Linked DNA regions of Homo sapiens. The protein of the gene in region 2 purifies or fractionates together with the protein of the main gene of each other region. This does not show direct contact. Each region holds a gene or a part of one and is shown on either strand. Other genes may lie near its edges.

Region 1 (4,298 bases), on a different chromosome or scaffold from region 2:
TGTGTTTGGGGCCACCTTCTGGTCATCCCCAGGTCAGTTCTGTGGTCTCCACTGGTGACGTCTCTGGAAATCAGGACGCTTTTCCTAGCTCTGTGGAGTGCCCTGCAGGACACCCTGGTGGCCATGTTCGTCGGCAATGCCCACACTGGCCACCACCAGCACAAATGCATGATTCCCCATAGACATTGCTGCAAGGTGCTGCATATGTGTGAATGACTTCTATGTGATGGTATGCACAGGAGAGGAGCATATGGAATTGGAATTTGCAGATCAAATACTCAACAGTGATCCCCATGGGTTTTGATGTGTAATTTTCCAGAGAGATTTGCTTGTGTGAGGCAGAGCTGGAGGGGCCACAGGAGTCACTCTGTAGGGGTGAAGGAGCCTCACTCTGCCTAACACAAGCATGTCCCTCTGGAAAATTACACATCAAAACCCATGGGGATCACTGTTGAGTGTTTTTTGTTTTTTGTTTTTTGTTTTTTTTGAGACGGAGTCTCACTCTGTTGCCCAGGCTGGAGTGCAATGGTGCAATCTCCGCTCACTGCAACCTCTGCCCCACTGGTTCAAACGATATTCCTGCCACAGCCTCCTGAGTAGCTGGGATTATAGGCACATGCCACCACGCCTGGCTAATTTTTGTATTTTAGTAGAGACTGGGTTTCACCATGTTGGCCAGGCTGGTCTCAAACTCCTGACTTCAGGATACATCCACCTCGGCCTCCCAAAGTGCTAGGATTACAGGCATGAGCCACTGTGCCCAATCTTACAGTTGAGTGTTTGATCTGCAAATTCCAAGGGTATGCTCCTCTCCTGCGTGTACCTTCACAAGGCACTCCTTTACTCCGTATACATTTGCACTTCTTGACTTCTTTTTTGAACCAGTTACAACATCTGCCTATTTCTCTCTTTAATGAATAAAATAAAATATTTATCACTTTTATATCTGTATAAAAGTCACGATTTCACCTTTGGCTGAAAATTATCTTTTAACAATGTAATCAAACATTCCCTTTCTAACACTGGCAGTCAGACAGGTAAGAGAGGTGATAAAGTATGGTGAGGGTGTGGTTTTCCTGATTTCACGCCCTAAGGATTCAAATAACTCACAAGTCAGACTTCCAGGCACAACGCAGTTCTCCAACAGAAATAGAGAAAACAGATTTTGACAAGCAAAAGGGACTGGTGCAGTTGGGATTATAACAAGCAGGGAAGTCTAGGAATACATCTCCAGCCTCCTGGGAGAGCCTGAGCCCGGAGGGGGCAGAGAGGAGGAGGAGGGAGGTCTGGGGGAAGAGAGGTCTGCAAAGTAGGGGAAGGGAAGGCCAGGAGGGAGGGAGGCGCAGCGGGGAGGAGAGGAGAGAAGGGAGGAATACATTTCTGGAAGCTTTAGAAATTTAGAAATAGAAACCACGTGGAAGTGCATCCAGGGCTCAGGGTTACAGAGGACCCCAAGACAACACAGGAAAGTGGGGTCTAATGGGAAAGGCAGGAGGTTTCTCCTTTACTGCTTAAACATTGTAGGAACTTGCATGGCAAGTGATTTTCAATCTTGCAGCAGGGAAGGCAGGGCCAGTACTTATCCTTAGATGATTCTACAAACATCAAACTTCTCCAAATATTTATTTTTCAGCAGCCATGCTTGTATTTTCCAAGTGTCTATGGTCGAGATAGCATGAATTAGGAAGCTACCTGGATGAGCCCACAATGGCCCTCTTAGACATGCCAACGACGCCCCTGCAGAATCTGCTTTTTCTCTGGCTGTTCCTAGGCCTGGATAGGGTTCCCAGGCCTGGACAGGATTCCCCGGATACCGGCGAGGCTCATTACTAACCACTTTATTTTAAATGGGCTTTGAAAACAACAGGTGGCATCTTCCATCAGCAAGTGGACATAAATCTCAGTGCCCAGTGTTTCCAAGGCCTGCCCGACCCACATGGCTGTGGGGTGTAAACTGTCCAGTCGTTCCTGGCACACCTACCCAGCATTTAGGATGTCCCACTCTTAGATCCATAGACCCAGCACCTCTCTTCTTAATACCCACCCTAAAGAAAAGCTGTCGAATGTGGATGCTGATTTAGTTGCAAATATGCTCAGTTTTTTAATAGTTTTATATTAGTAAAAACGCTACAACCAGAATGTCTCACTGCAGGAAGAGAGTTACAAGGAGTATTTAACGGCATGGTGGAAAGGCTCCTCCGTGCTAAATGGCCAAAACGAACGCAAGTTTGCATACGGTGTGATTTCCACTATGTCTTTAAAATGCATGGCGAAACACCTACAGGAAAATACCAAAATGTAAACAGCGGCTGCTTCGGACGCATGGGATCGTGGAGGCTGCTGTTCTGCAAGGACAACGTATCACTTTTATGAAAGTCAGCTTCTGAAAACGGACTATGGGAAGTTCCTTACCCGTGCACGCGGCAAAGACCTTCTTTGCCATAGTCAGAACACACGCGGGAGTTCAGAGGAGCGGGGCCCGGGCTTGTGTGGGCTTGTGTGCCCCGGGGACGCGCACGTACCTTGTCCCGCGGCCTGAGACTGCGCTGCACCGCGCGGAGGCCGAACCCAGAGGAGGCGGCGTGGCGCCGGGCGGGGACGCGAGAGGGACGTGGACGCGGCGACCGAGGACGCGGGGATCCTGCGGGACCAGTGGCTCCAGTCGTAGCCTCCTGGGAGAGCCAAGCCCGGAGGGGGCGGAGAGGTGGAGGAGGGAGGCCTGGGGGAAGAGAAATCTGCAAAGTCGGGGAAGGGAAGGAAGGCCAGGAGGGAGGGAGGCGCAGTGGGGAGGAGACGAGAGAAGGGAGGGAGGGAAGTGTGAGGGGAGGGGAAGAAGTGGGGTGGTCGGAGGGTGGGGTAGGGAGGAAGAGGGAGGGAGAGATGGGAGAGGCTCCAAGATAAAGAAAGGTGCAGGGAGAGGGGGTGGGAGGGAGGGAACCGCAGAGAGGAAGGGAGAAGAGAATCAGGCAGCCTTGAGGGAGGAGGCAGGGAGGCCAGGAGAAGGAAGACAGCCAGCCTTCTGTGAGATTTACGTGCGTGCCTGGCTTCCAAGACAAGTAACTTCTGTTGTAAATACAAATTAAGCTATTTTTTGTTTATTTTATTTTATTTTATTTTATTTTATTTTATTTTATTTTAGAGATAGGGTCTTATTCTGTCACCCAGGCTGGAGTGCAGTGACACAATCATAGATCACTGGAGCCTCGAACTCCTGGCTTCAAGTGATCCTCCCCTTCAGCCTCCCAAAGTGCTGGGATTACAGGTGTGAGCCACCATGCCCAGCCACAATTTTTTTTTTTTTTTTTTTTTTTTTTGAGATGGAGTCTAACCCTGTTGCCGAGGCTGGAGTGCAGTGGCACGATCTCAACCTCAACCTCACTGCAACCTCCACCTCCCGGATTCAAGTGATTCTCCTGCCTCAGCTTCCCCAGTAGCTGGGATTATAGGCACGCGCCACCACGCCCAGCTAATTTTTGTGTTTTCAATAGAGACGGAGTTTTACCGTGTTGGCCAGGCTGGTCTCGAACTCCTGACCTCAAGTGTTCCACCTGCTTCGGCCTCCCAAACTGCCGAGATTACAGGCGTGAGCCGCCGCACCCGGCCCCAGCCCCAAATTAAGCCTTTTTTTAAAAAAGAAATTAATACACGTTTCATACTTGCCTCCTTCGTATTTTCTCTGGTCATCTGCCCAAGGTTATGACAACAGCTTCAACTTGGCTGCAGAAGCACACCCCTGTGGCTCACTCAAACTGGAAACATACAGGAAAAGGGAATTCTAGGAATATAGCTCAGCCTGGACAAATGGGCACATTAAAAAGCCATTGCACCGTGGTGGCCGCACTTCCTGCCATCCCCACTGCAAAGGTGTTGTTATGGACTGAATGTTTGTGTCCCCTCCAAAATTTGTACGTTGAAATCCTAACCACCCCGCCCATGGTGGTATTTGGAGGCGGGGCCTTTGGGAGATGCTTAGGTCATGAGGGTGGAGCCCCCAAGAATGGGATTTGTGCCGTTACAAAAAGAGGCAAGGGAGCTTGCTTCCTCATCTGTATGCCAGGAAGAGGATACTCACCAAGAACCCAATCCTGCTGGCCCATCCCAGACTTCCAACTTCCAGAACTATAAGAAATAAATGTTGTTTAAGCTACCCAAGTCTATCTATGATGTTTTTGTTGTTGTTGTTGCTGTTGCTGTTTTTGAGACAGAGTCTCGCTGTGTCGCCCAGGCTGGAGTGCAGTGGTCCCATCTCGGCTCTCTGCAACCTCCGCCTCTCGGGTTCAAGCAATTCTCCTGCCTCA
Region 2 (3,500 bases):
CCAGTTACTTGGAAGACTGAGGCAGAAGGATTGTTTGAGCTTGGGAAGTCAAGGCTGCAGTAAGCTATGATCATGCCACTGCACTCCAGCTTGGGTGACAGACAGGGTGAGACTCTGTCTCAAAAAAAAAAATAGATAAATAAAAAGAAAAAGAAAAAGAGAAAAGAAGAACTCTTACAGCTCAAGAACAAAAAGACAAAAAGACAACTCAATTCAAAAATGGGCAAAGAACTTGAGTAGACATTTCTCTGAAGATAATATACAAATAAGCAACAAACACATAAGATGCTCAATGCCATCAGTCATTAGGGAAATGCAAATCAAAACCACAATGTGGTATTGCTTCACACCTGCCACAGTGACCCCAATGATAATAATCAAAAAATGGAGGTCGGGCGCAGTGGCTCATGCCAGTAATCCCAGCACTTTGGGAAGCCGAGGCAGGCGGATCACTTGAGGTCAGTAGTTCAAGACCAGCCTGGCCAACATGGTGAAACCCCGTCTCTACTAAAAATACAAAAAAATTAGCCGGGCGTGGTTGTGGCCCACACATGTAATCCCAGCTACTTGGGAGGCTGAGTCAGAATTGCCTGAACCCAGGAGGCAGAGGTTGCAGTAAGCCGAGATCACACCACTGCACTCCAGCCTGGGTGACAGAGCAAGATTCCCCCTGCCCCCCAAAAAAATACATAAAAATAAAATGATGAAAATGGTCAATTTCATGTTATGTGTATTTTACCCCAATTTAAAAAATACTTTTCTGCATTCAGTCAATGCTCCTTGAATATCTACTGTGTGCATAGGGAAGTGTGCTATGCATTTAAGACACAAGAATAAATGTGATGGATGTGATGGCTGCTTCCAGGCAATTATGGATTGGGAAGAAATCCAGCAAACAGTGATGGACCCAAGAAATCTAGGATGTGATGGACCCAGGAAGAATAGGATGTGGCAGACCCAGGAAGTCTAGGATGTGGATGACAGGAGTTGGGAGGAGGAGAAATGGTTTTCCTGGCTGGAGGTGGGGGAGGGTCGGGGAAGACTACCTGTAAAAGACGCAATGTGAGATAGCTTTTGAAGGAGGAGGAAAACTTGCCCTTGGAGAGTCAATCTTATTATTGAAGGGATGTGTAATTAGAGGCCACATGATGCCATCCCATCCCTGCAACGGGCAAGACAGTTTAATGTGTGGAGTGTCTAGAGAAAGCAAGGATGGTTAGACCCCAGGGAGGAAGAGCTATAGCACAGACCCCCTCAGAATGCTCTCCCAGGCTTTCTGTTAAAAGCTCCTGCAGCAGAGTGGTCATGGTGGATCAGAGGGCAAAGTGAAGAAGTGAGGACAACTGATTCAGCCTGCTAAGCATTCTTGGGGCCTCAGGAGCCCCCACTGTCCTTTCTGAGGCTTTTGTCTTCTGCATCCTGGCAAGGAGCAGGCAAGCAGAGAAAAAGGCAGGAGAGACCAGGGCTCGTGTTAATTAAGCACCTACTAAGTACTGGGGGTCGGAACACATGGTTTTATGTAATCCTCACAGCGGCCCAATGAGAGAGGTTCTACTATTGCCTCCTCCTTCTACCTTTTTTTTTTTTTTTGGCTTTCATGTTTTTTCCTTTGCCTTTTAGCTATTTTAAAGTTAGAGAAATGAGGCACTGAGAGTTAAAGTGGCTGGCCTGAGGTCATCACGTGGGTGGAAGCCTGATTCAGGTGAGGTCAGTCTGACACCAGGATCCCTCTAGGTGCTCAGAGAAGGAATTTCCCCACAGTAAGGAAGGAGGCTTGGCCTGCTGAGATGAGCCTCAGATTCCTGTCTCTTGGCCCCGTAACTATCAGCAAACTCAAAGCTGAATTTCACCACTGGCAACTTCTGGTGTTAGCAAGTCTCTCAACCTCTGTGGGTTGTGCTCTATTCATTTTAATTTTTATCTTATGATTAATTATTTACAGTGTCCCTTTGTTGCCCAGGTTGGAGTGCAGTGGCTCACTCACAACTCACTGCAGCCTCAAACTCCTGGGCTCAAGTGATTCTGCCGCCTCAGCCTCCCAAAGTGCTGGGATCGCAGACGTGAGACAAGGTGGCCAGCCCACTTTGCTCATTTTTAATGCATGGGAAGCTGGCGGAGATTTATTTTCTTCTTCTTCCCCCAGGAATATGTTCTCATACATACATACTATCTAGGTCCTTTTAATTCCCCACTTCCCTAACTATCCATGTTCATGCATATTTACATTTAAAAAAAAATAGGATCATACTGGCTATGTTGATTCTGTGACTTTATCTTTTTCACTAAATAATATGACTCAGGAACCTTTCAAGGTCAGGAATGTGGATCCACCTCATTCATCTAAAATCTACTCATTCTCCCACATGAATGCATATACTGTAATCCCTTCCCATACCAGTGTTGCAAGCTCTGCCATGGACATTTTTATGTTATGTCAGTGCAAGTGTGAGCATTTCTGTGTGAGATTTTTCAAAGTGGGATTGCTGGACCAAAGAGCATGCCATTGAAGTTTCGAAAGACCCTGATAACTAATCTGAAGAAGGCCCAGAACTCAGTTGTTTCTCAAACAATTTCTGGCATGGATGTTTCTCTGATGCCTGGTGGAGAAGCGGGTGATGGTCTTAGACAAGTCTTTTAACCTTTGTGAGGCTTAGTTTGCTTATCTGTAGAGTGAGAAACAGTGTCATAGACACAACAGTGCTTTGGAGATGATAAGGTCCTGTGTAGGTTGGGTGCTGTGGCTTATTCCTGTAACTCACACTTGTAACCCCAGCGCTTTGGTTGTAACTCACACTTGTAACCCCAGTGCTTTGGGAAGCCAAGGCGGGAGGATCGCTTAAGCCTAGGAGTTAGAGACCACCCGACTCTGTCTCTACTAAAGAGAAAAACAAAAACCAGACAAGAAAGTCTTGTGTAAATGTGAGAAATTAAAAATTGTTATTAATATTGGAAGGCTCCACAGCTAGACACATCTCCTTCTCCTCATTACACAGAAACCAAAACGAGGAGCTTGTGCAAGAAAGAAGCTGTTTTTGGTTTTTATTTTGTTTTTTTTTGGAGACAGTGTCTCACTCTGTCACCCAGGCTGGAATGCAGTGGTGTGATCATGGCTCACTGCAGCTTCGACCTCCCCGGGCTCAAGCAATCCCCCCACCTCAGCCTCCCAGGTTGCTAGGACTACAGGCGCATGCCACCATGACCAGCTGATTTTTTTTTTCCTGTATTTTACAGAGATGGGGTTTTGCCATGTTGCCCACGCTGGTCTCAAACTCCTGGGCTCAAGCCATCCACCCGCCTCAGCTAGGAAGCTGTTTTATATTAAGTATCAACTATGTTTAAGGCCATGTATTAGACCAGCAGTTCTCAATAGCGAAGGAAAAGGATGATTTTGCTCCCCAGGGCACATCTGGCAATGTCTGCAGACATTTCTGATGGACATGACTCATGGGGTAGGGAGTGTCACTGGCATCTAGTGGGTAGAGACCAGAGGCGCTGCTGAA

The links. The genes of interacting proteins can lie anywhere in the genome.
Region 1: the proteins of ABAT (region 2) and CMBL fractionate together in Homo sapiens (co-fractionation; one large-scale study listed by BioGRID). This does not show direct contact.

Annotation. Positions count from the first base shown.
Region 1 is NC_000005.10:10,305,103-10,309,400, forward strand, and holds the start of CMBL (carboxymethylenebutenolidase homolog), read right to left. Parts: upstream 2,801-4,298; 5' UTR 2,523-2,800; exon of another isoform or gene 2,413-2,522; intron 1-2,412. UniProt on the Homo sapiens protein: Cysteine hydrolase. Can convert the prodrug olmesartan medoxomil into its pharmacologically active metabolite olmerstatan, an angiotensin receptor blocker, in liver and intestine. May also activate beta-lactam antibiotics faropenem medoxomil and lenampicillin.
Region 2 is NC_000016.10:8,677,617-8,681,116, reverse strand, and holds part of ABAT (4-aminobutyrate aminotransferase, mitochondrial isoform 1 precursor), read right to left. Parts: intron 1-3,500. UniProt on the Homo sapiens protein: Catalyzes the conversion of gamma-aminobutyrate and L-beta-aminoisobutyrate to succinate semialdehyde and methylmalonate semialdehyde, respectively. Can also convert delta-aminovalerate and beta-alanine.